4 linked regions of the Homo sapiens genome follow. The protein of the gene in region 1 interacts with the protein of each later gene in a pairwise test. Each region holds a gene or a part of one and is shown on either strand. Other genes may lie near its edges.

The links.
Region 2: the proteins of CLN3 (region 1) and CDHR3 interact in binary tests that used the Homo sapiens proteins (3 or more experiments, as listed by UniProt).
Region 3: the proteins of CLN3 (region 1) and KCNIP3 interact in a two-hybrid assay, tested with the Homo sapiens proteins (one study listed by BioGRID).
Region 4: the proteins of CLN3 (region 1) and SBDS interact in a two-hybrid assay, tested with the Homo sapiens proteins (one study listed by BioGRID).

What each region holds. Positions count from the first base shown.
Region 1 is NC_000016.10:28,489,046-28,496,376, reverse strand, and holds the start of CLN3 (battenin), read left to right. Parts: upstream 1-4,302; 5' UTR 4,303-4,357; exon of another isoform or gene 4,358-4,541; 5' UTR 4,542-4,617; coding exon 4,618-4,663; intron 4,664-4,816; coding exon 4,817-4,895; intron 4,896-6,990; coding exon 6,991-7,087; intron 7,088-7,331. Other genes in the region: APOBR (apolipoprotein B receptor), read right to left, coding at 1-1,278, 1,639-1,695.
Region 2 is NC_000007.14:105,966,260-105,973,289, reverse strand, and holds part of CDHR3 (cadherin-related family member 3 isoform 1 precursor), read right to left. Parts: intron 1-7,030. UniProt on the Homo sapiens protein: Cadherins are calcium-dependent cell adhesion proteins.
Region 3 is NC_000002.12:95,377,347-95,384,376, reverse strand, and holds part of KCNIP3 (calsenilin), read right to left. Parts: intron 2,782-7,030; coding exon 2,674-2,781; intron 2,001-2,673; coding exon 1,896-2,000; intron 1,146-1,895; coding exon 1,083-1,145; intron 376-1,082; coding exon 328-375; 3' UTR 1-327. UniProt on the Homo sapiens protein: Calcium-dependent transcriptional repressor that binds to the DRE element of genes including PDYN and FOS. Affinity for DNA is reduced upon binding to calcium and enhanced by binding to magnesium. Seems to be involved in nociception.
Region 4 is NC_000007.14:66,987,178-66,992,614, forward strand, and holds the end of SBDS (ribosome maturation protein SBDS), read right to left. Parts: intron 4,125-5,437; coding exon 3,960-4,124; intron 1,323-3,959; coding exon 1,194-1,322; 3' UTR 503-1,193; downstream 1-502. UniProt on the Homo sapiens protein: Required for the assembly of mature ribosomes and ribosome biogenesis.

The sequences.
Region 1 (7,331 bases):
TGCGGTCTGGCTCTCAGCAGCCTCTTCTGTTCTTTCAGTGCCCAGGACCTGGGGCTGTTTGGGGAAAGGGCTCACCTCAGCCTCTCTCTCCTCATCCCCCTCCTCCTCTAGGACCCAGACTTTTCCAGTAGCCTCTAGGAGCCTTTCTCCTGGGACTGCTCCATATTCTGTCTGTCTGACTCCCAGCAGGTCAGCCTCCTCTTTGCCTGAGGTTGTCCAGGCCTCGTCCCCTCCTGAGGCTGTCCCGGCCTCCTCCCCTCCTGAGGCTGTCCCGGCCTCCTCCCCTCCTGAGGCTGTCCCAGCCTCCCCGCCTGAGGCTATCCCGGCCTCCTCCCCTCCCGAGGCTGTCCCGGCCTCCTCCCCGCCTGAGGCTGTTTCAGCCTCCTCCCCGCCTGAGGCTGTCTCAGCCTCCTCCCCGCCTGAGATTGTCCTGGCTTCCTCCCCATCTAAAATTGCCCTGGCCTCTTCCCTACCTGGGGTTGTCCTGGCCTCCTCTCTGCCTAAGATTCCCCAGTCCTCAGGCTCTGCCCCTGGGCCCCACGTCCCCCATGCCCTAGTGCTTTCACAGGCCTTCTCCACCACTACCACCTCTTCTCCTTTCCCAGCCCCTTCGGCCCCAGGCTCCTCAGTTTCCCCTGCATCTGCCTCCCTGACCCCCTGCTCCATCTCCCGGTTGTCCCCTGCCGCCTTTGGCCCAACAGCACCAGCCTTCCCCTCCGTCTCCCCATGCCAGGTCCACTCTGACTCCGCCCCTCTGGCCATCCCTGGCTCTCTTGCCCTGACCTCTTCCTCCTCCTCCTCCTGTTCCCAGCTTCTCAGCCTCTCTTCTCTGTTCACTTCCTGCTCATGGGACTCCTGCCTCTCCTGGGCTTGGCCGCTCCTGTCTTGGCAAGCCCCAGACCCTGCCTTGGATTTCTTTCTGGCCTCCAAGTGGGCGCTTGGCTCCTGGCACCTGGCAGCCTTGGCTGTCTCCCCAGCCCCACTGTCCTGCCTCTCTGCTTGGGACCCATGGGAGCTGCCATCTCCCCAGCCCCAGGTCTGTTCTACAGCTGAGCTCCCCACTTCATGTCTTCTGTCATCTCCAGGCCCTCTCAGCCTTCCAGCCCCCTCGTTTTGGCTGCCTCTAAGGCCCTCCAGGTCCTCCTGGGCTTCCTCCTCTACAATCTTCCCTGTCTTTCCCACCGCCACCACCCCCAGTTCCTCAGCCGCCTGCGCCTCCCGCTCTACAGTGGGGACTGCATCTCCCAGGAGGTAGGAGACAAAGGTGCCGAGGGAATCCTAGGAAAAAAGAGAGAGAGAGGGGAGAGTCATTGAGGAGAGTCCCAGCCCTTTCCCTGGGGGCCCTGGCTGGAGGAGCCCAGGTTAAGGAAGAGGGTACTGGGATCTGAAAGGAGAAGAAGAGGATTTGCAGAAGGAGCCAGAAGGGGCATCGATTAGGGGTACGAGGACGCATGGTTGGAGGTGGGGACTGAAATTCAGAAAATATTAGGCCAGGAGTCTGCCTGAACCTGAGAAAGCAATCTCCAGTTTGAGGAGATCAGAAGGAGGAGGGGAAAGGTGAGGCCCCAGGGGAGGTGCCCGGAAGTGAGGCCCCAGGGAATGGGGTGCAAGTATCTGGCAGCTGTCTGCCCTTCTCACCAGTGCCCCCCTCAAGGCCTGGTGCAGCCCAGGGAGGTATAGCCGGAGGAAGTCCATCCTGTCTGTCTCTGTCTGTGTGTCCAGAAAGCTGATAATGACCGTCCCCACCCACCAAGACAAGCCAACCTTCCCCAGGACCAAAGGCACTTCCTCTTCCCCTGTCTCCCTGATGCGTCCCCACCCCAGGCCCTGCCCACGGCCCCTGATGCCCACAGTAGCCCCCACTGCAGCCCGGGAAATGGGTGTACATCACACAGGGGACTCAGGTGCACATTTGGAAATAAAGGACAAGCAAGAGGCCAGAAAGGACAAAGTGGGAGCAGGAGACCTTAGAACTGGGGAGGGGGAGAGGGAGGGGACATGTGGCAACAGCAGCTCAAGTGACTCAGGTCTCGTATCCGCACCTCAGCCATTTCTGCCTCCCCTACAAGCCACAGCCACTCTGCAAGAGGAAGCTGGGGTTTGTGGTTCCTGTTTTGCCTGGGAAGAAAGAGTAGCAGTGAAGAGGGGGCTGGTGGGAGCTCTGACACATTTCGGCGTCATTAATGCTTCCCCCAGGGGCGGAAGGGGCCGGATTGGTGGCTCTGGGGTGCATCCCCTCACCTATGATTAGGCTTGCAAAAAAGAACTTGGCTAAACTTTATATTGTGGATATCTGTGTCTGCCTCCCACCTTCCTGTGACTTCCTTGATGGCAGATGCCATGTATGAAACGCTGCTGAATTTCTAGAGCCCTGCACGTTAGTAGGATTCCATTTTCCATCAGCTGAGTGACCTGGGAGGCACACTAGAGAGGGCACATTTCTTTTCTTTTCTTTTCTTTTTTTTTTTGAGACAGTCTCACTCTGTCACCCAGGCTGGAGTGTAGTGGCGCAGTCTCAGCTCACTGCAACCTCTGCCTCCTGGGTTCAAGTGATTCTCCTGCCTCAGCCTCCCGAGTAGCTGGGATTACAGGTGCGTGCCACCACACCTGGTTAATTTTTGTATCTTTAGTAGAGACAGGGTTTCACCATGTTAGCCAGGCTGGTTTCGAACTCCTGACCTCAGGTGATCTGCCCACCTTGGCCTCCCAAAGTGCTGGGATGACAGGCATGAGCCACCACACCCAGACGAGAGGGCACATTTCCAACTGCATTCTGAAGGCCTGGTGGTGAGAAAGAGCATATAGAGGTGGCACAGCCCATAGCAGAGATGAGGCCAAGGACAAGAAGAGAATGCAGGATGCCGCTTTCCACCTAGAAGAAGGTAAGGGTATGATTCCTTATTTGGAACTACATAAAGTGACCTTGCTCTACTTCTCTTCCCCATACCCTCCTTCTCCCCTCCCCAGCCCCACTTTCCTATTCCAATTAGGGCAATTCTATGAAATCACAGCATCAGAATCTTAGGCCTTAAAATCATTTAGTCTGGCCAGGTGCAGTGGCTCACGCCTGTAGTCCTAGCACTTTGGGAAGCCAAGGCAGGTGGATTGCTTGAGCTCAGGAGTTTGAGGCCACCCTGGGCAACGTGGCAAAATCCAGTCTCTACAAAAAACACAAAAATTAGCTGGGCACAGTGGTGCGCACCTGCTGTCCCAGCTACTCGGGAGGCTGAGGTGGGAGGATCACCTGAGCCTGGGAGGTCAAGGTTGCAGCAAACCAAGATCCTGCCACTGCACTCCAGCCTGGGCAACAGAGCAAAACCCTGTCAAAAAAAAAAAAAAAATCTGGTCTAAGCACCACCTTTGATGGAGGCAGGAATCCTGCAGCAGCCTGGAGCCAACCCAATGGCTCCCTGCCTCTGGTGCTCTATTTCTTATCACCATACAGGTCTCTAAGGTCACCTTTAGGTCTAACATTGTATGAATGATTGTCAGCAACTTTCCAATTTTTTTCATATACATATATTTTTTTTATTTTATTTTTTACTTTTTCTTTTTTTGAGACAGGATCTCACTCTGTCACCCAGGCTGGAGTGCAGTGGCGTGATCATAGCTCACTGTAGCTTCAACCTCCTGGGCACAAGTGATCCTCCCACCTCAGCTTCCAAGGTACCTGTGACTACAGGAATGCGCCACCATGCCCGGCTAATTTTGTTATATATATATATATATATATTTGTACCTTGGTTTTCTCATCTGTAACACCAGGGGTTGAAGTGCTGTGATATTTTTTGGTTCTAGGATAATTTGGAAATAGGGATCTCTTAACATCTTGGATACTGCCAATAGATCATTCACGAAATCCCTTTAGATGAGTGTTATGTTTACTTAGGTCTCTAAAACAATTTGTAAGGTCAACAGATGGGGATAAGAATGACCTGAAGCTGGTCGTCTTTGTTCGCAACCAGAAACAGTCCTGCCTCAAAAAAAAAAAAAAAAAAAAGGGAGTAGGCAGGTGGCCATATTTGTTTCTGGCAAGTGAGTGCTGAAGGAAAGGAGCTGAAGCCTCCCACAGTCATAACTGGTGCTGGCAGGCTACTGTCTCGGTCTTGGGCGCCACTGATCTAAGGTCACGGCTCTGCTTGCTGCTCCCACCCGCTCCAGTTTAAAACCTGCGGTTCCAGGGTTCTCCAGCCCCTCCCTTTTTCACGCTCCGAAGCCGAGAAGGCCCAAAGCGAAGACAGAGAGGACCCGGAAGTAGGGAAAACCTCTGAGCACGTGATGGGGGAACACGCGGGTGCTGTCACGTGATCCGACAAACGGCCTCTGCATAGTGCAGAACATTCTGCTGCTCTTAAAGGTACAGGCCTCAGGGTCCCTGCTGTAGACGGGGCGGGGGAGAGTACGATGGGTGGGGCGTGGTGGGTCGTAGGGCGCTCGAGATGGAGCCCCCAGCTTCCTTGATGGATCGCGGGGCGCGAGTGCCCTAGACAAGCCGGAGCTGGGACCGGCAATCGGGCGTTGATCCTTGTCACCTGTCGCAGACCCTCATCCCTCCCGTGGGAGCCCCCTTTGGACACTCTATGACCCTGGACCCTCGGGGGACCTGAACTTGATGCGATGGGAGGCTGTGCAGGCTCGCGGCGGCGCTTTTCGGATTCCGAGGGTGAGTATTCCCGCCCACCCTCATGGAACGACCACCTCTGGCTCGCAGCCCACCTGAGGGGAATGAGAGCTGACTCGGCCCCGGGAGGACACGCAAGGAGCGGTCGTGCACCTGAGAGTAGGTGGGGGTCATGCCCTCTTCTCGCTCTCCCAGGGGAGGAGACCGTCCCGGAGCCCCGGCTCCCTCTGTTGGACCATCAGGGCGCGCATTGGAAGAACGCGGTGGGCTTCTGGTGAGTGGCCTGAGACTTCAGCGAGTGACAATGGCATGAGAAGAGGGAAGTGACCGGAGGAAAGGGGGAAGAAAGAGTTAAGCTGCGCAAAGGAGCTGAACCCACAAATATTTACTGAATCCACTGGTTTGCCCCAGGGGCAGCATGTAAAATTTCCAAACTTCACTCCTTATCACCTTCCGGATTTAGCAAGATCCTCATACCTACCACCTGTAGGATTATTTACTTTTTTCTTCCAGCCAATTCAGCCTTAACGTTTTTTAGTGCACATATTTTTAAAAAGAAAACTTTAAATCACGACTCCACTTGGAAAACCAGCGTTTTCCTAGTGAACGTTTAAATAAATGCATCACTACTAAAACTTTTTTATTTTTTTAATTTATTTTATTTTATCTTATTTTTTTTTCTTTTTGAGACAGGGTCTTGCTCTGTTTCCCAGGTTGGAATGCAGTAGTGCAATCACAGCTCCCTGCAGCCTGGAACTCCTGGGCTCAAGTGATTCTCCCACCTCAGCCTCCAAGTAGGTGTGGCTACAGGTGTGCACCACCGCATCTGCCTAATTTTTATATTTTTTTATAGAGATGGGGGTCTCACTATGGGACCTGGGCTGGTCTCAAACTCGTGGCCTCAAGTGATCCTCCTACCTCAACCTTCCAAAGTGCTGAGATTACAAGCATGAGCCACCATGCCGGGCCTGAACCTTTTTTTTTTTTTTTTTTTTTGAGACGGAGTCTCTCTCTGTCCTCCAGGCTGGAGTGCAGTGGCGCAATCTCGGCTCACTGCAAACTCCGCCTCCCAGGTTCACACCATTCTTTTGCCTCAGCCTCCGGAGTAGCTGAGACTACAGGCGCCTGCCACCACGCCCGGCTATTTTTTTGTATTTTTAGTAGAGATGGGGTTTCACCGCGTTATCCAGGATGGTCTCGATCTCCTGACCTCGTGATCCGCCCGCCTCGGCCTCCCAAAGTGCTGGGATTACAGGTGTGAGCCACCGCGCCCAGCTTTTTTTTTTTTTTTTTTTAATTTTATTTTATTTTTGAGACAGAGTCTCACTCTATCACCCAGGCTGGAGAGCAGTGGCACAATCTCGGCTCACTGAAACCTCCACCTCCAAGGTTCAAGCTATTCTCCTGTCTCAGCTCCCCGAGTAGCTGGGATTACAGGTGCGTGCCACCAGACACAGCTAATTTTTTGTATTTTTAGTAAAGACAGGATTTCACCATGTTGGTCAGGCTGGTCTAGAACTCCTGACCTTAGGTGATCCGCTTGCCTCCACTTCCCAAAGTGCTGGGATTACAGGCGTGAGCCACCGTGCCCCGCCCTGACATAGGGGCTTTGGGATCACAGACTTGGATTCACTTCCAGCCTCCAAGGCCTCTCCCAGAAACTCTCTGTGACCACTCTCCTTTTTTTTTTTTTTTTTTGAGATAGAGTCTCGCTCTTGTAGCCCAGGCTGGAGTGCAATGGCACAATCTCGGCTTACTGCAACCTCCGCCTTTCGGGTTCAAGTGGTTCTCCTGCCTCAGCCTCCTGAGTAGCTAGGATTACAGGCATGTGCAACTTCGCCCAGCTAATTTTGTATTTTTTAGTAGAGACGGGGTTTCTCCATATTGCTCAGGCTGGTCTCGAACTCCTGACCTCAGGCGATCCGCCCGCCTCGGCCCCTCAAAGTGCTGGAATTACAGGTGTGAGCCACTGCACTCGGCCTCTTCCTTTTTATTTTTTATTTTTGTGACAGGGTCTTGCTCTGTCACCCAGGCTAGAGTGCAGTGGCATGATCACAGTTCACTGCAGCCTCTGACTCCTGGACTCAAGCAATCCTCCCACCTCAGCCTCCCAAGTAGCTGGGACTACAGTGCAAGCCACCACACCTGGCTAATTTTTAAATTTTTTGTAGAGATGGGGGTCTCACTATCTTGCCCAAGCACCAAAGCCTGTATTTTTGACCCCAACATTGAATGAGGATGGGATCTGGTGATAGAGGGAAAAAAAAGAGGGGGCTGATTGAAGGGCACAGGTAAGGGAAGGTTTGGCACAAAGGCTACAGATGGCTGCAGGATGAGGAGGGAGTTGAGACCTGTCCTGCTCCTTCCAGGCTGCTGGGCCTTTGCAACAACTTCTCTTATGTGGTGATGCTGAGTGCCGCCCACGACATCCTTAGCCACAAGAGGACATCGGGAAACCAGAGCCATGTAAGTGACTCTCTACCACCACCACCATGGTTAGTCCCTGTGGGAAGATGAGGGGGTGGGACAAGGTGGGGTAAAGTTTCCAGTCTCTGGCTGGGCACAGTGGCTCACACCTGTAATCCCAGCAGTTTGGGAGGCTGAGGCGGGCGGATCACTTGAAGTCAGGAGTTCGAGACCAGCCTGGCCAACATGGTGAAACTCCGACTCTACTAAAAATACAAAAACTACCTGGGTGTGGTGGCACACA
Region 2 (7,030 bases), on another chromosome or scaffold:
AATGTAAAATCCTGTATTTCACTTACTCCTCAAACACTCCTCTCAGACAGGTATTAATGTCATTTTACAGATGGGGAAACTGAGCTGAAATCCACACAGCAAATAATAAATAACAGAGCCAAGATTTACACAGGTCCCCCTTCCCAGCCAGCTTCCCAATCTCAGCCACCATCAGACCCTGAGAAGAAAACCCTGAACAAGTAGGAGGCACGGAGTGGGTAGGGACAGTAGAAGGTTCTGTCCCACTGAAAGGTATAAATGTTCTAGGAACAAACAAACCAGGATGTTTTATTTCAGTTGGTGCGGGGTGGGGTGAGTGCAGAGGAGTAAATGGAAAAGAGGAAAAAATTGAAATATAAGCACATTCACTGATACAAGCTTTTAAAATCTAAAGTCATCTTATTTAGTTTAGAGGCTAAAATGCATAATGCATAAGTTATTGTCGCTCGCAGAATTATCAAGTTTTATGGACAAGGACTGTGCAAGGACTCAGAAATATCAAAACAGCTGAAGTTTAGGGTGATGCGAATATGAATAGATTTTTAAAAATCTATTACAATTGACTTTGATATTATAGCATTCTTATGGTAAAAACCAGGAGTGAAAGAGTATGGTTGGAGTATTTAGAGACAAAGCTCTCAAAAACAGTTTTTCAAAATGAGCAAAATACTCTATTGCTTTGATGGGTTGGGTATTTGGGGCATAATTCCCTCCCATTCTCTTTTCTCGCAAATGCATACCTCTCTGAGCTGTTCATGAGAGTGTTCCCTCACTGTTTAGCAAGACAAGGACAGCTGTACAGGAAATGGAAAGTTGGCAATCTGTCTCATGGGATGCCCACATTCTCACCCATATTCTTCCCTTGCCCCCTCCAACCCTCTCCAGTGACTCGTGCCCCTCCAGGCAACAAGCAAAGTTAGAACTTGCTATGTTTTTCTCAATAATAGCCTAGGGTAAGATCGTGCCTAGCCCAAACGAATAGACTAAAATAAGTACCCATTTCATTTATCAAGCACCTGCTCAGCTGGCATCATGCTAGCTCCTTGACTGCCTGATCCCCTTAATCCCAGCACAATCCTCCGACATAGGTATTGCTGTCACCATTGTACACATCTGAGATTATACTGCTGTCACCATTGCACACATCTGAGATTATACTGCTGTCACCATTGCACACATCTGAGATTATACCACTCAGGGAACAGTCATGGAGGGCCCTGGCTCATGGTATCTGGATCTTGTACCTAACAGACTACACATACCTACTACAGACAGTCGGTCACTCCATGCCTGTCACATGACCATGCACATAGGATGCATCATAGTTATTCAGTCACCCTGGGACACTGCAACAACATGGCTGTGGGGGCTGGTAAGAAATTGACCTTTAACCTGGATGTTAGATCTTGATGATGTGATTTGTAAGAGGCTGTTTCTGGAACAACACGAAGAATTGTGCTGGAGTGTGAGCGTGGTGTGAGCTCAGGTAGAAGGGACTTGCTAAGCTCCACTCAGGGCTCTCCACAGCCTCACCCCGAGTGGAGAGATCACTGTGCCTCCCAACCTTAGTGCAGCTCCTTTGGGGAGCTGGGGACTGTAGAGAAGCCATGCTCCCCAAATATTGCCTGCTGATAGCTCCTGGTTTGCTTTGCTAGAAGTATATCCACTGATTTTCTTGAATTGATCATAACTTTGATAATTCCTGGGTCTGAGAGACTAATTCCATGAAAGATCCAGCATTCCAATCCTAGGCATCTGACTCCAAGGACAGCTCCATGATGTCTCCTTAAATCAGAGTGTTTTTTATCGTCCTCCTTGAATGGTCATATTTTGAATGGCAGTGAGAGATATTTTTGAAGAAGTGGATATAGCCAGTGACTCTCAAGCAATTTTTATTGGGAACCGCCTGTCCCATGTATGGTGAAAGCCAGACTGTCCTTGGATATGCCCTTTCTGCCGATATTCTTGCTAGAAATGATCTACATTTTTTCAGGTGGCCTCTCTTCCCAGGGCAAGGCCGTGTGTGCCAGGGTCATGCAAATGAATCCTTAAAACTTTGAGGCAGACCTAGGCAGACCTAGCAGTCCTAGGCAGTCCTTTGAGGCAGACCTAGGCAGTCCTAGGGATACTGATTTTTTTTTTTTTTTTTGAAATGGAGTCTCGCTCTGTCTCCCAGGCTGGAATGCAGTGGCGCGATCTTGGCTCACTGCAAGCTCTGCCTCCCGGGTTCACGCCATTCTCCTGCCTCAGCCTCCTGAGCAGCTGGGACCACAGGCACCTGCCACCATGCCTGGCTATTTTTTTGTATTTTTAGTAGAGACGGAGTTTCACCGTGTTAGCCAGGATGGTCTTGATCTCCTGACCTTGTGATCCACCTGCCTCGGCCTCCCAAAGTGCTGGGGATACTGATTTTTTTAAAAAGATAGCCAAGCTGGGTTCTCCTGACCTTAATTCAAAATCCGGTTTCTCCAGCTCTATTGCTATTTGTAAAAGAAGTAGTAGTAGTAATAATAGCAATAGCAAGGATAATAAGTGACTAGGGTCCATACCCTAAAAATAGAGTAATGAATAAGATACAATATTCACAAAATGTTAAACCCATCTGTTATACAGGTAAGCTTAAGTGATGTATCCAAAGGCACCCATCTGGTCAATGGCAGAGGGAAGATTAGAGGCCAGGTGCCAGCTCTCCCTAAAACACCGCATACTTTCCTTCCATGGCTGGTCTTCCAGGCTTTCTTTGGTGGTCTGAGTGCTAGAGAGCAAGAAGGAGGCTCTAATGGAATTTGACTTACACATGCATCTTAATTAAGAATCAAATTAGAATTGCTTGAAGCACGTACTTTGGAAAAGAAAGAGCATGCAAAAGATTTATTGTCAGCCATGGCGCCCACTGAAACATCTTGCTTGTGGCTAAGATCTGGATGCAGGATGTGCTCACTTGTCTCCCTTGAATCACTGCCTCTCCAGAAATGGACCAATGGGGCTTCCCTGGGAGCCTATGTTGGGATAATTAAGCCTTCCACAGTCTCAGAGAGGAGGAAGTTGGCCACCCTGGACCTTTGACACTGAAAGTGGAGATGCGGGTCAAGAATGTGGGGTGATGCCATCTTCTTCTTGGGGTGTAGCTGCTCTAACTTAGAGCTCTGCTTTCAATACACAGAGCAGGACTCCCTGAGACCATCACTCAATAGCTACCTCTTCATTCTCTCTAGTACCTAATCAAACAGCAGTGAACAAAATCAGTTCTGTGAAAAGAACGAGAGATTTGGAATCAGACCCCTGGCTTCAAGTCTTAGCTTTGCCACTGCTTGACTGTGTGACCTTAGGCTGGTCCCTTGACTTCTCTGGGGGTTCCTGTCAACTCTGTCTCTCAGGGCTATGGTGCTACATTAACAGTAGCCACTAAACAGGGTTCCTTTGCTAAAGAAGACTCATGGGACCCAAGTGACAATGCTTATAAATCTACAGTTTTATTACAGAAAACGGATACAGCATAGCAACAACATGAAAGTAAGGATATGCACTACAGCTGAAGGCTGCCTCAGCAGGAGATCCACAGAGGCCAGGTGCAGGCTAGGCTCTTACTGTTGTCTTTTCTCTATGGGACGGAAGAATGCACTGTCTTGGATCAGGAACAGCCAATGTATGCACAAATATCTTGGAATTATGGAGTCTTTACTGGGATTTTTTTCTATTTTGCTGTAGGCATATTCTTGTTCTATAACTGGCCTCAACGGCAGAACCCACAGAAGGTCCTCGTTGAGACCAGGTGCAAATAATCAATCCCACTGTTATCAATAAACAACGCTTACAAGCTGCTACAAACCATTCAGAAACTCCTAGGACCCACGGTTACAACGAAACACTTTTTTTTTTTTTTTTTTTTTTTGAGACGGAGTCTCGCTGTCGCCCAGGCTGGAGTGCAGTGGCGCAATCTCGGCTCACTGCAGGCTCCGCCCCCTGGGGTTCACGCCATTCTCCTGCCTCAGCCTCCCGAGTAGCTGGGACTACAGGCGCCCGCCACCTCGCCCGGCTAATTTTTTTTTGTATTTTTAGTAGAGACGGGGTTTCACCGTGTTAGCCAGGATGGTCTCGATCTCCTGACCTCGTGATCCGCCCGCCTCGGCCTCCCAAAGTGCTGGGATTACAGGCGTGAGCCACCACGCCCGGCCCACTTTTTTTATTTTTATTTTTATTTTGAGACGGAGTCTCGCTCTGTCCCCCGGGCTGGAGTGCAGTGGCGCGATCTCTGCTCACTGCAAGCTCCGCCTCCCGGGTACATGCCATTCTCCTGCCTCAGCCTCCCTAGTAGCTGGGACTACAGGTGCCCGCCACCACGCCTGGCTAACTTTTTGTATTTTTAGTAGAGACTGGGTTTCACCGTGTTAGCCAGGATGATCTCAATTTCCTGACCTCATGATCTGCCCGTCTCAGCCTCCCAAAGTGCTGGGATTACAGGCGTGAGCCACCGCACCTAGCCAAAGCAACACTATTAATCAGCATGCTTCATGCCTTGACTAGGGGTCAGTGTGGTTCACGAACTTCAGCAGAAAAATTCAGGCTAATATCAGGCCTATGGAAACTTATTCTCACAGCACAGATGCCACATAAGAAAATGCATATGCTCGGCCAGGCACAGTGGCTCAACCTGTAATCCCAGCACTCTGGGAGGCCGAACCAGGTGGATCACCTGAGGTCCGGAGTTTGAGACTAGCCTGGCCGACATGGTGAAACCCCACCTCTATTAAAAATACAAAAATTAGCAGTGTGTGGTGGCAGCTGCCTGTAATCCCAGCTACTTGGGAGGCTGAGGCAGGAGAATCACTTGAACTGGGAGGTGGAGGTTGTAGTGAGCCCAGATCACGCCACTGCACTCCAGCCTGGGCAACAAAGCAAGACTCCATCTCAAAAAAATAAAAAATAAAAAAAAGAAAGAAAGAAAGAAAAGAAAATGCATATGCTCAGTAAACTATAAAGCATTGTCAAATGTTGTTTCAACATATGCAACTTTTTCCTATTTCTTTAATTTCCACAATATATACCTCTTCCTGAATGAGATGTTCACCCACCCCCTTTTTTGGGAGGAACAAGGAACAATCCAGGCCAAGCAAGATTAACAGAAAAGAGCCCTTTATAGGACACAGAAGGAAAGGTGATTCAACTAGTGATTCTGTACATTATATTAGGTCGGTGTAAAAGTAATTGTGGTTTTTCCCTAGAAGAAAACCTAGGCAATACCATTCAGGACATAGGCATGGGCAAGGACTTCATGTCTAAAACACCAAAAGCAATGGCAACATAAGGCAAAATTGTCAAATCGGTTCTAATTAAACTAAAGAGCTTCTGCACAGCAAAAGAAACTACCATCAGAGTCAACAGGCAACCTACAGAATAGGAGAAAAATTTTGCAATCTACCCATCTGACAAAGGGCTAATATCCAGAATCTACAAAGAACTAAAACAAATTTACAAGAAAAAATCAAACAACTCCATCAAAAAGTGGGTGAAGGATATGAACAGACACTTCTCAAAAGAAGACATTTATGCAGCCAACAGACACATGAAAAAATGCTCATTATCACTGGCCATCAGAGAAATGCAAATCAAAACCACAATGAGATACCATCTTACACCAGTTAGAATGGTGATCATTAAAAAGTCAGGAAACAACAGGTGCTGGAGAGGATGCAGAGAAATAGGAACGCTTTTACGCTGTTGGTGGGACTGTAAACTAGTTCAACCATTGTGGAAGTCAGTGTGGCGATTCCTCAAGGATCTAGAACTAGAAATACCATTGGACCCAGCCATCCCATTACTGGGTTATACCCAAAGGATTATAAATCATGCTGCTATAAAGACACATACACATGTATGTTTATTGTGGCACTATTCACAATAGCAAAGACTTGGAACCAACCCAAATGTCCATCAATGATAGACTGGATTAAGAAAATGTGGCACATATACACCATGGAATACTATGCAGCCATAAAAAAGGATGAGTTCATGTCCTTTGCAGGGACATGGATGAAGCTGGAAACCATCATTCTTAGCAAACTATCGCAAGGACAAAAAAACCAAACACTGCACGTTCTCACTCATAAGTGGGAAGTGAACAATGAGAACACTTGGACACAGGAAGGGGAACATCACACACTGGGGCCTGTCATGGGGTGAGGGGAAGGAGGAGGGATAGCATTAGGAGATATACCTAATGTAAATGATGAGTTAATGAGTGCAGCACACCAACATGGCACATGTATACATATGTAACAAACCTGAACATTGTGCACCTGTACCCTAGGACTTAAAGTATAATAATAAAAAAAAAAAAGTAATTGTGGTTTTTACCATTACTTTCAATGGCAAAAACCAAGATTAATTTTGCACCAGCTAGGTCATAACTGGCAAGAAACAGACGTGTTTATCTTAGAGCATCACTATGGGGTGGGCCTGAGAAAGGCTTGTTTCTTTCAAATCTCTTCCAACTACATGGAGGCGAAAGTGGATGGATTCCAGTGACTGCCTGACTGCTTGCACTGGGGGTGAGGTTGCCATGGGCAAGGAAGAGCTGAGAGAAGGGACTGTCTTTTGTTCTTCTGAGGTGACTCTGAACAGGAAAGTGACATGACGGAAAAAGTAGAAACCTCTTGCAACACTCTTTGGGCCTGATACATAGGGTTAATTGGCTGACAGAAAGACTTTCTAGAAATGGATTGCATCTTCCAGCCTTTTCATATGATGAGAGCATTAAGAAGCATTTACATTTTAATTACCAAGGAGAATAAGAAACTCAGTCTTGGGCCTTTGTTTGATTTGCCAACACTGGCTAGCAGAGAACCACGCACAGATGATGGGCTGAAGAAAGCTGTGATTGCCTCTTGCCCAGAGCTTGCGGACAAACTCAGTTGGATGGGTTTGGTACCTTTTCATGTCCATGTGAATCTTCTGGCTCCCAAGGATCCCTTCTTTCATTAAATACCCTGGCATTTTTCATTTCCAGGAGGGTAATACAAAAGCTGGTTCC
Region 3 (7,030 bases), on another chromosome or scaffold:
GGTGACATCCAGCAGCTGGTGGCCTGCAGACCTGCTCTGTCAGCCACTCACCCAGAGGCAGCCTCGCCTCGCTGGCCTGGGAAGGGCTGGCTGGGGCTCCTGGACTCGGCCCCTAGCCAGACTCAGCCCCTCCCTGAACTCTGTCCCCTCTGCCAGCCCAGATGAATGGCTGTGTGTGTGTGTGTGTGTGTGTGTGTGTGTGTGTGTAGCAATCTGTTCACTTTTTGCAAATCTATTTTTTAAAAGTTTCTTGGAGGCTGCTCCTGGCAGGATGGAGGTTTCTTGGGGGTGGAGGTGGCTGTGGCCATGCACTCCTTTGGACGTGTCCTAGATGACATTCTCAAACAGCTGCATGGAGCTCATGATGTTCTCATCCTGCATGGAGAGAGGAAGGGAGGCCTTCAGGTGCTGGGTGGGCTCCAAATCCGACCCCCTTGAGCAGATTCCCGCCAGGGACTCGGAGCCTGCAGCGACTGCCTGTCTGTCTGTCTTATTGGGTGCAGGGAGCTGGGGGACAGGGAGGTGAAGTAGCTGGTCCGAGGTCCCCAGCTGGTGAGGCACAGCCTGTCTTCAACCCCACTCCTGACTGCAAGCCCATCTGGGATGAGCTGATGAAGGCGATCCCGGCTGGCCTCCAGAGGAGGTGGGCGCTAACCAGGACTGCTCTGGGAGTGGGGCAATAGAGGCGCTGGAGGCCCAGCATCCTGCCCCCTGAGGTGCTCTCTGGAAGGGCCAGCAGCAACACTGCGGAAGCTCTGGTGCCTCCCCACGGTGACCCTCTCCCTCTGGCTGGCCCCATGTCTGCCCCTAACTTGAGGTTCTCCAGGGACTGGGCTGAGGGAGGGTGTGGGGGTAGTGGGGGGATGCTGTGGGCTGCAGGGGTGGGTGGGGAGGAGGAGACTCAGACAAGAGGGCAAGTGGAGCTTGGGGCTGTCCAGGAGGTGGCAAGGGGCCAAGGACAGCTGCCACATCCTGGACTGGCAGGGGTGGGACTGGGGTGAGGGAAGGGGCAGACGCTGCCAACCACCCACCTCCGTGTAGAGCCTGCAGAGAACTGTGGCCCAGCCTCCCGTGCCACCTACCTTCTGACAGGCCTCCAGGAACTCTTCAATGGTCACTACCCCATCCTGGTTCCGGTCCATTTTCTGCAACCCAAGCCATGCCCAAAGTGAGTCTGTGCCCCAGCAGAGACAGCCCCGCCCCTGGCCTGAGGACGCAGAAGTCATGGGTGGGTGGATGGGCGGGTGGGTGGATGGGCGGGTGGGCTCCCTCCACTCTAACTTGTCCCCTGTGACTACTCTGGATCCAGGCCACATAATCCACCCTTCATAGCCACCTCCCAACCAACTGCTGAGGCTCCAAGCATCTCCCCACTGCTCCCCTAGGCCAATTCCCTGAGCCCTCCTGGGCTTGGGTTTCCCAGAATTTGTCCCCATGCTCATCTGACCGCCTCACCTCCCTGAGAGGCAGCCAGGGCAGAGGGAGCAACTGAGTCACAGGATGGCCCATGTCTAGTGGCCCCAGCAAGTAGGAGGCAAAGCCTGCAGCCCCTGCAGCCGCCATGCATACAGGTGAAGGCCCCCAACCTGCTCCTCTCCCAGAGCGTCTTCCTGGAGGAGCCACACAGCTCTCAGGAGGCATGGAGCTCCGGCCCAGGGTCAGCTGCCTCAGGATCCCCAGCTCTGGCCCCCAGATGAGGTCCACAGGGCAGAGCAGTGGTGTAGTTCACTTCTCAGGGGTTCTGACAACCAGCCAGACTGGAGGGGCAAGTTTAACCTCCTCATGGGGAGTAGGGAGGCTCAGAGGGGCAAGCCACTTGCCCGGGGTGGCCCCAAAAGCGAGAGCCCCTTCCTCTGCCAGGCTCCCCTCCCTAGGCAGGGCTGGCGCTCGCTCACCTCGAAGAACCTCTCCACGTGCTCCGCCGGCGCGTCCTCCCGCAGGATGGGGTAGGTGTGGCGGCCCATCATGTCATAGATGGACTTCATGATGGCCAGCATCTCCTGGAGGGGGAGGCTGGCATGAGCCTGCTGCAAGGCCGGGGTGGCTGTGAGGGCCCAAAGGGAGCGGGCGGCATCCAAGGGTGCAGGGCACCTCCAAGGCAGTGAGTGCGAGGGGCCGGACGAGCTGGAGAGAGAAGCCTGTCCGCTTCCAGGGCACCCAGAGCGAGCTTCTGACTCTAGGGGAAGCTCATCTCCCAGAGAAGTGGGAGATGGATTGCTATGTGCTTATCTCCAAAATGTGACGCGGCAGCAGAAAAAGTGCTTGGACCAAACAAAACCTGTCTGTGGGCCCATGTGCGAGGGCTCCCCTCTCCACCCATGCCTTAAGGGACCGCACTGCCCCCTTCACTTGATGGGGGCCAAGGCCAGGACCTCTGGCTTCTCCACTTAAATCTCCCCGAGGCCTTTTGTGTAAGACAGTATGACCGAGAACACTTGCTGAGCTGGACCGAGATGTGTGGTACAGGGTACCTGAACCCACACTCCACACCGGGGTGTCCAGGACCGAGCCCAGGAGAGGAGAGCCCACTGGCTGCTGTCCCTGGGGCCAGTCTCTGGATGGACAGCGGGAGAAGACAGGTGGGCAGCAGGAGCAGGGAGAGGAAGAGCGGCGGGAGGGGTGGAGCAGCAGGAGGGGAGGAGGGGACAATCCCTGCCCCCAGCCCCCTACTACCTCTTTGGTGATGTAGCCATCCTTGTTAATGTCGTAGAGATTAAAGGCCCACTTGAGCTTCTCGTGGACTGTGCCCCGCAGCAGGATGGAGAGGCCAACCACAAAGTCCTATGGGGAAAGGAGAGTGTGGGGCGTGACATCCAATCAATGCCCAGGTTCTAGTTCCAGTTGCTGTGTGGCTTCCACTGAAATTCACGCCTCCAACAGGCACAGAGCCTCCCTAAGAGACTGACGGCATCCATTCAGGTCAGCACAGGGTGAGTGTGTGCCCGTGTGTGAGCGCATGCACGGGTGTGCACCTGTGTGTGTGAACTTGTGTGAGGGTGTGCACCTGTGTGAGAACTTGTGTGAGGGTGTGCACCTGTGTGAGGGTGTGCATCTGTATGTGTGAACCTGTGAGGGTGTGCACCTGTGTGTGCACCTGTGTGAGTGTGTGAACCTGTGTGAGTGCATGCGCATGTGTCTGCATGTGTGGCAGGAGTGGCATGGTAGCTGATACTGATGCCAGAGAAAGATATTCAAATATATATGGTGTCCTAGACCCATTTAATGCAGTGCTGCCGCTGGAGACGCCTGGGGTACTCTTTTAATAAAGGAGGTGCTCTATGTTTATTCTGCCAAGCATCTGCATGGCAAAGGTGCTTGAAAACTTCCAGATTAAATAGCTAGAGGAATGATGCTCAGCTTTTTGTTTGTTGTTGTTTTTAGAGACAGAGTCTCAGACTGTCACCAGTCGCCATCATGGCTCACTGCAGTCCCAAACTCCCAGGCTCAAGCGATCCTCCACCTCAGCCTCCTGAGTAGCTGGGACCACTCGGAATAATCCATGCCTGGCTAATTTATTTTATACTTATAGAGATGGGGTCTCGCTATGTTGTCCAGGCTGGTCTCCAACTCCTGGCCCCAAGTAATCCTCCTACCTTGGGCTTCAGAAGTGCTGGGATTACAGGTGTAATCCCAGGGCCACCTCGCCCAAACCTGGTGCTCAACTCTTGAGTCATGACATGCTGTGTGTGGCCATCGCCTTTGGCATGGGAAACTTTACTACTAATATGACAGAATATGGCTGTTTAAATGGTTTCCATGTGACAACTTCAACTGTTTTGTTACAGCAGTTGGTAGAAAGCAGGTTTTCCCCCTACCTCTTGGAAGGTTTAAAGGTGAAACCCTCCCTGCACCCTGGGGTCCTCCCAGGCTACTCTGAAAGAAAGGGGTGAGAAAGGGGCTGTACCAGCGAAGTGGGACAGAGGACGGTCAGAGTGCAAGGGACAGGGCCATGCACCAAGGCCCCGAGGCCCCTCAAGTGTTAGATTTTCGGGACTGGAAGAAGTCTGTACCATGAGAGAGACAGAGACAGAGGAAAGCGATTTGGAAGAACAAAAATTATCCCAGGAGAAAAAAATTTGACAACAACTATTAGGTTCAGAGATTACAAATCTTCCATCACTAAAATAAGAATAGGATGTCCCAAAAAAGAGGTAACTGGAAAAAAGAAAGAGCTCTTGGAAATTAAAAATAAGAAAGCAAAATGACAGACTTAAAAAGAAAGGTTGGGAGAGCAAATGGAATCTTCCATGAAGTGGAATGAGAAGGCAAATAGCTGGAATATAGGGGAGAACAGAGGATAATGAGAGTTGCACTCCAGAGGGGCCAATGCTGGGACACAGGCAGTTCGGGAAGAACGGGAGAAAACAGAGGAAAGTGGGTAGGAGCAATCAGGAAAGACGATTTCCCAGAATGGAAGCAGAGATTTCCAGTGTCCACCAAGGCTTGGCACAATGCATGAAAACAGCCTGCAGTTTAGCTGCAAGCATAGATCATGGTGAAATTTCAGCAAATTGGGTGCAGAGGATCCTATAAACTTTCAGAGAGGAAAGCAAAGCCAAACAGAAAAAGCAAAATCGGGACCCATCACGGGTCAGTGTCAGCAGGGGCACCTGCTCTGCAGCAGCGCCTGAGGCAGGAGGCCCAGGGAACGAAGCGACCCCCAACTTTGAAGGAGAACAGCTCCCCCTGGGGGTGCTGGTCCCTACAATGGATCAAGCAAGAGTAAAAACAGAATAAAGACACTCCCAGGTGCTCAAACGCTCCAAAGTTACAGCTCACATCCTCTTTTATAGGAAGCAGCTGGGCAGTAAGCCCCTGAACACACAGAGAGTAAAGCAAGAGAAAGGCAGATCAGGGATCCCAGAACCAGAAGGCCCAGCCCAGCAGACAGGGGAGGAAGCCCCAGAGGCACCAGGCCCCAGCGAGGATGGAGCTGTGGGAGGCTGGTGGGGGGGCCTCCTCTGGCAGATGCCGGGCAACAGGTTCAGATGACTGGAGAAGGGCCTGGGCTTGAATGAATAATGAGGTCACAGAACACAGACAAACTAATCATCAGGACCAATGTTAACCGTAGGCAAAGGAAAGGAAAAGATCATCGCAATGGACAACAAGCCTCAGCGAGGGGTCCAGTTCACAAATCAGAGTAAACCAAGGCCTTATCCAACCTGAAGCCTAGAGTCTGTTGGAAAGCTGAACTCCTGGGCTCAAGCGATCCTCCCACCTCAGCCTCCTGGGGGATGGGTGGGGGGCTGGGGGGACGGGAACGTTGTATGTCTGAGGGAGTCCCAAATTCTCACTTGTGGCAGGGGGTGGAAAAGTGGAAGCAAGCTTCTGGGGGACATGGAAACAAGCACAGGTGACTGGCTACAGCAGACAAGGTGGTGGTCACCTGCTGGTTTTCCAACGTGCACCCTGCGAATGTGTTGGACTCCAGTCATGTGTGTGTATAACTGAAGACAATGAATATATATATATATATGTGTGTGTGTGTATATATATGTGTGTGTGTGTATATATGTGTATATATATGTGTATATAAATATGTGTGTATATATGTGTGTGTGTGTGTATATATATATATGTGTGTGTGTGTGTGTATATATATATATATTTTGTTTTTGTTTTTGAGATTGAGTCTCACTCTGTCACCCAGGCTGGATGGAGTACAGTGGTGCAATCTCAGCTCACTGCAACCTCTGACTCCTGGGCTCAAAGTGATTCACTTGCCTCAGCCTCCCAAGCAGCTGGAATTATAGGCACCCGCCACCATGCCCAGCTAATTTTTTTTTTTTTTTTGTATTTTTAGTAGAGACGGGGTTTCGCTATGTTGGCCAGGCTTGTCTCAAACTCCTGACCTCAGGTGATCTGACCGCCTTGGCCTCTCAAAGTGCTGGGATTGCAGGCGTGAGCCACCGAGCCCGGCCAATGAAAATATTTTAAAGAAGCAACACCCAGGTGTGGTGGCTCACACCTGCAATTCCAGCACTTTGGGAGGCTGAGACAGGAGAATTGCTTGAGGCCAGGATTTCAAGACTAGCCTGGACAACATAGTGAGACCTTGCATCTACAACAATTAAAATAAAAAAATTAGCTGGGCATGGTGGCATGCACCCGCAGTCCCAGGTACTCGGGAGGCTGGGGTAGGAGGATCACTTGAGGCCAGGAGGTCGAGGCTGCAATGAGCTATGGTGGTGCCACTGCACTCCAGCCTGTCTAAAAATAAAACAAAAAAAATAAAAATTAAAAAACAAGGAGAAACATTGTTATATTTCTACTATGCCCAAGTTTAGGGAATAATAATCACTGAAGCTTGGGCATGGTTTACACAGTAGTGAAGATTCTAAGTTATCCCTGAAGCCCTGGGTCAGACAGGCCTTCCTAGTGGGTAGCAAAGGCGTGGAGCACACCGTTCTCCTGGGGACCCTGGGCAGGCACCGCTGTCCTCCACCTTATCTTCAGCTGACATGGGCCCCTCAGGTGGTCTGTCTGTCTGCTGCGGAGAAGCCCTCATGTTCAGCCACAGAGCCTGCTGCTAGCAGCTGAGGAATGTCCCTATGCAGTATCCCTTAGCCTCTCTCTGTGTGTTGGCTACAGTAGTGACAGTACTAGGAGATGGTGGGAATGTCCTGTTAGGCCACTGGCTAGTCTCCATTCATAAAGGTAATACACAGATGACCCCAAGTCCAGCCAGCCCATGTCTGAGTGCACGCTGGTTCTAAATTCCTTGGCCATACACAGTGCAACCATGGCAAGTTGTAACTCCATGCTCTGAATGCCAAAGTGTAGGAACCCTGTCACATCCACAGCCTCTGTTCTACGGCTGTCCCCATGGCAGGGGCTAGGCAGGGTGAGGGCTCCAGTGACACAGCATACTTCCAGGTGAAGGTGCACAAGAGTGCACAGGAGGGTCTCCCGGCAGAGCCCGGAGCAGGTGCTCAGCGAGGGGGTGGGAGTCGCATGTGGTTGCTGGGCTTGCAGGCTGCCCTCACACGGCCCTGGATGCCGCTTGGCCACTGGCACATGGAGCAGT
Region 4 (5,437 bases), on another chromosome or scaffold:
GACCGAGTTTCACTCTGTCACCTAGACTGGAGTGCAGTGGCACATTCTCAGCTCATTGCAACCTCTGCCTCCTGGGTTCAAGTGATTCTCCTGCTTCAGCCTCCCGAGTAGCTGGGACTACAGGCGTGCACCACCATGCCTGGCTAATTTTTGTATTTTTAGTAGAGACAGGGTTTCACCATGTGGGTCAGGCTGGTCTCAAACTCCTGACCTCAGGTGATCCGCCTGCCTCGGCCTCCCAAAGTGTTGGGATTGCAGGTGTGAGTCACCTCCCCTGGCCTTGAAGTAGATTTTTAAAAGCTTGCATCTTGTCCATTTAAGTGTTTAAATACTAAAATAATTCTTCCCAATTACATCCCAAGTGTTAGCAAAAATTTTTCAGGTGTTTACAAGTACAGGCCCTGTTCTAAGCACTCTTCATATGGACTTATTCAGTTCTCCTGACAACTCCCTAACCCTACCACAGACACAGGCAGAGAAAAGAAAGGGAGTTAGGAAGTTGTCTAGAAACACAAGCCATAGTTTAATAAACATAAGAGTGGTTTTATTGATTACATACAATTTTAGCTATATTAATATATATTATAAACTTTAAGAATTAGAAATAAGTGACTTTTATTTTTTAACCAAGAATAATCTAAGTTATGGCAGCATGTTCAATGAAAGGTAAGTCCGGCACAATTTTTCTATATCTGTTTCTCAGATAATCAGGAACATCATCCAAGCTTTACATTACGATACCATAATGACCCTCAGAACACAAGTTCCATTAAGTAGAAATGAAGCATCATATGTTTTCTTTTTTAGGAAAGACCCCCCCTTTTGTTGTATAGACATACCCCTAATAATCTTACTCTACTGTACAAATAACTTTTCACCCACAAGAGCTGCCTCAAGTAACTTTCATTTTGGAAAGCTATCAAGGCATGAGACAGAGTAGCAAAATGCCACTCTGGACTTTGCATCTTGGAGTTTCAATTTTGCTTTAGGATTTAGACCCCAGTTTATAATTAAAACCAAATCATTCCCACATTATTATACTTATGTAGGAAAGCCTTGCTGTGTCCACTGTTAACACAAAGATAGAAAATGTCAAATAGTTTAAGCAAGTATTTGGCAGACCACAGACATGAAACAGTGCCGTCGGAAACGGAAACACTTTAGTGTTTTAGAGGTGAAGAGATTGATGGGTGTCATTCAAATTTCTCATCTCCTTCTTCTACATCTTTCAGATTGAGTACTTCCAAAGAACCTTTGCCTTTAGTTTCCTTTTTTATTAGCTCATCAATTTCTCGGAAGCAGCCCGGGTCAATCAGACATACCTGAAACATTTAACGTAGCAGATTACCACATGAGGATGAGCAAGACACAGAATAAACTCAGCTTTAACTTCCTTTGAGGCAAGCACAATGCTGTCCAGATCTCTAATAATACCACAGTTCTATGGTGCAATAGATAAGACAATGGGTAGGGCGGCACACTGGGTTCCAGTTTAGCCTCTGCCCTCAAGTGTCCATGTAGCCCCCTGTGACAAGGCATTAATCCCTATGTTTAAACACTTATTCTGATTCTTCAGCTGTAAATGGAAGGGACAAACTAGAAAACTCTGATTCTTCTCATACTAAAATTTAGCATTACATTTTATAGCTCAGTAAAGTCACCTCCACGTATGAAGGAGAAAAAGCAATGTGAAGACTTATGTAGACACCATGTGTATGTTAATTTATTTTTTTTTGAGATAGAGTGCAGTGGTGTGATCTTGGCTCACTGCAGCCTCCGCCTCCCAGGTTCAAGTGATTCTCCTGCCTCAGCCTCCCAAGAAACTGGGATTACAGGAACCCACCACCACACCTGGCTTATTTTTTGTATTTTTAGTAGAGATAGGGTTTCACCATGTTATCTGCTCACCTTGGCCTCCCAAAGTGCTGGGATTACAGGCACGAGCCACTGTGCCTGGCCCATGTGTACAGTTTTGCAAAGATTTTAGAACTTCAAGTAGTGTCAGATGAGTTAGTTCACATCTACAGTGGATACTCACATACTCAACACTTCTCTACAGCTCATTTACTTTTAAAAAGAAGCTGCAGACAGGGCGCGGTGGCTCAAGCCTGTAATCCCAGCACTTTGGGAGGCCGAGGCGGGTGGATCACCTGAGGTCGGGAGTTCGAGACCAGCCTGACCAACATGGAGAGACCCCGTCTCTACTAAAAATACAAAATTAGCTGGGCGAGGTGGCACATGCCTGTAATCCCAGCTACTCGGGAGGCTGAGGCAGGAGAATCGCTTGAACCCGGGAGGCAGAGGTTGCAGTGAGCTGAGATCACGCCATTGCACTCTAGCTTGGGCAATAAGAGTGAAACCCTGTCTCAAAAATAAATAAATAAATAAATAAATAAATAAGCTGCAAAGCCTTGAAAACATGAATTTGTAGACAGCTCAATTTACACTGTGTTTGAAGCTGTGGGGTGAGGTCATAAGGACATAATGGTTTCGCTGCTTCTTTAAAATGTTCTGTGTTTAGTGTCACCAGGTTCACACACTAATATCCTCTGGAAACACCCTCACAGACATACCCCAAACAATGCTTTATCAGGCTTCTAGGGATTCCTTTCCAGTCAAGTTGACACCTAAAATTACATCCACAATTCCACCCCTTATCAACTTGGCACCCAGACTCATCTCTTTAAACCATTTTTAATTTTCAAATGAAGACAATAACAAGGTCCTAGCTTTTCCTCACATGATGCAATTAACCAGACGCGACTATCCTGCATACAACTCAAAGAGTGCTAATCCTTTTGCCAGAATTCAGCTTTCAGAATTTCATCATTCAGAATTCAATCTTTTTTTTTTTTTTTTGAGATGGAGTTTCGCTCTTGTTGCCCAGGCTGGAGTGCAATGGTGCAATCTTGGCTCACCGCAACCTCTGCCTTCCAGGTTCAAGTGATTCTCCTGCCTCAGCCTCCCGAGTAGCTGGGATTACAGGCATGTGCCACCACGCCAGACTATTTTGTATTTTTAGTAGAGACAGGGTTTCTCCATGTTGGTCAGACTGGTCTCGAACTCCCGACCTCAGGTGATCCACCTGCCTTGGCCTCCCAAAGTGCTGGGATTACAGGCATGAGCCACCGCGCCCAGCCAGGATTCAATCTTTTGGAACTGTGATTTTCAAGATATTAGAAGTTCAGGCTTTGGACTTTAGAGATTTTGATTTTTTTATGATTTCAACATTGGGATTGTGGCATTTGGGATTGTCTTTTAGGATTATGATCAGCACTGGAGTAAAGCATGCAATTGAGCTATCTCTGAAAACTCAATGTAAATTTCCATAGTGTGCTTTGTACTAATTTTTGCAAAATTTTTAAGGTAATTGGAATTATCAATCTTCCACTAAAATAGCAATTTTTAAGTGGCTTATTTTAAATAGTTGCTAAATTTGCTAAAATCATGTATCTAAAACACTACGCATAATATATGACAAAAATAAATGCTGGGAAAAAAATAAAAGGATTTGTGGTAAACAAGGCTGACCAACCTTTAGTCTTAAGAAAATATCTGGCTGGGCGCGGTGGCTCACGCCTGTAATCCCTGCACTTTGGGAGGCTGAGGCAGGTGGATCATGAGGTCAGGAGATCAAGACCGTCCTGGCTAACACGGTGAAACTCCGTCTCTACTAAAAAATACGAAAAATTAGCCAGGCTTGGTGGCGGGTGCCTGTAGTCCCAGCTACACAGGAGGCTGAGGCAGGAGAATGGCGTGTACCCGGGAGGCGGAGCTTGCAGTGAGCTGAGATAGCACCACTGCACTCCAGCCTGGGCAACAGAGCGAGACTCCATCTCAAAAAAAAAAAAGAAAAGAAAATATCTGACGTTTACAACATCTAAATGTTTGCTACAAATTTATTACTAGAGAATACAATATTTAGGTAACATGAAGCAAAGAAAATATTTGACTCTTACGATTTCTAACTGTTGGCCATAATCTTCACTTTCTATGACCTTGATCAGTGGCTTGAGCTTTTCTTTCAGCTTCTTGCCTTCATTGACTGGAAGGATGAACCGAAGCCTCATGTGAGCACGTTCTATCTTCATTTTCTCTTTTAACTGCTTTATCACTTCCAAAGCCTACCAAGACAAAATCGAGAATGCAATTTCTTCTACTATATTATTTCATAAGGTTTTCAAAAACAAAGTAGTTTCCATGTAGTTGGATTAGGTAATGGTTTCTTAGGTATAACATTAAGAACATAAGTGACCGTTAAAAAAAAAATAGAAAAATTGGACTTATCAAGAAGAAAAGCTTTTGTGTTTCAAAAAACTATGAAGAAAGTGAAGGCCAGGTGTGGTGGCTCACGCCTGTAATTCCAGCACTTTGGGAGGCCGAGGCGGGTGCATCACAAGGTCAGGAATTCGAGACCAGCCTGGCCAACATGGTGAAACCCCGTCTCCACTAAAAATACAAAAAAAGAAAAATTAGCCGGGTGTGGTAGTGCACGCCTGTAATCCCAGCTACTCAAGAGGCTGAGGCAGGAGAATTGCTTGAATCCGGGAGGCAGAGTTTGCAAAAAGAGGGCGGGGGGGGTGGGCAAAGAACCTGAACAGAGATTTCTCAAAAGAAGACAGACGAGGCACCAATAAGCACATGGAAATATGCTCAAATCATCATTAAGGAAATGCAAATCAAAACCACGACAAGATACCACCAGGATGGCCATCATCAAAAAGGCAGACAATGACAAGTATTACTGAGGATGTGGAGAAACTGAACTCTTAAACACTGATGGTGGTAAAGTAAAATGGTGCAGCTGTTTTAGAAATAGGTTTGGTAGTCACCAGGTATACAGAAATGAAAACATATGTCTACACAGAAACATACAAGAAATTTTATAGCAGCATTGCTCATCATAGCTCAAAAGTGAAAGCAACCCAATGTCTATCAACTGATAGATGAATGAACAAAATGTGTTTCTTTCCGTACAGTGGGCTATTATTCCGGCATAAAAAAGAAATGACATGCTGATGCAGGTTACAACATGTATGAACCATGAAAAGGCCACATATTGTATGATTCCATTTATATGAAATGTCCAGAATTGAGAAGTCCATAACGAGAGGAGATTAGTGGTTGGGAGGGGCCTGTGGGGGGAAAATGGGGGATGGCTACTAATGGATACTGACTTTCTTTTTGTGGTGATGAAAATGTTCTCGAACCAGGTAGCAGGGAAGGTTCCAAAACTTTGTTAATATACCACTTAAAGTGTACATACTTTATGAGTGTGAAATTTATGGTATGTGAATTATATATAAATTAAAAAATTCAAAAAGAAGTGTTAAAATGACCCTTTAAAAACTCAAGTTTTGTCTTTAAAAGTTTGATTTGGATAGGAAGAAGAAAGTCCTATATACATATTTGTGTTTACTTGAAAAAAAAAAATTAC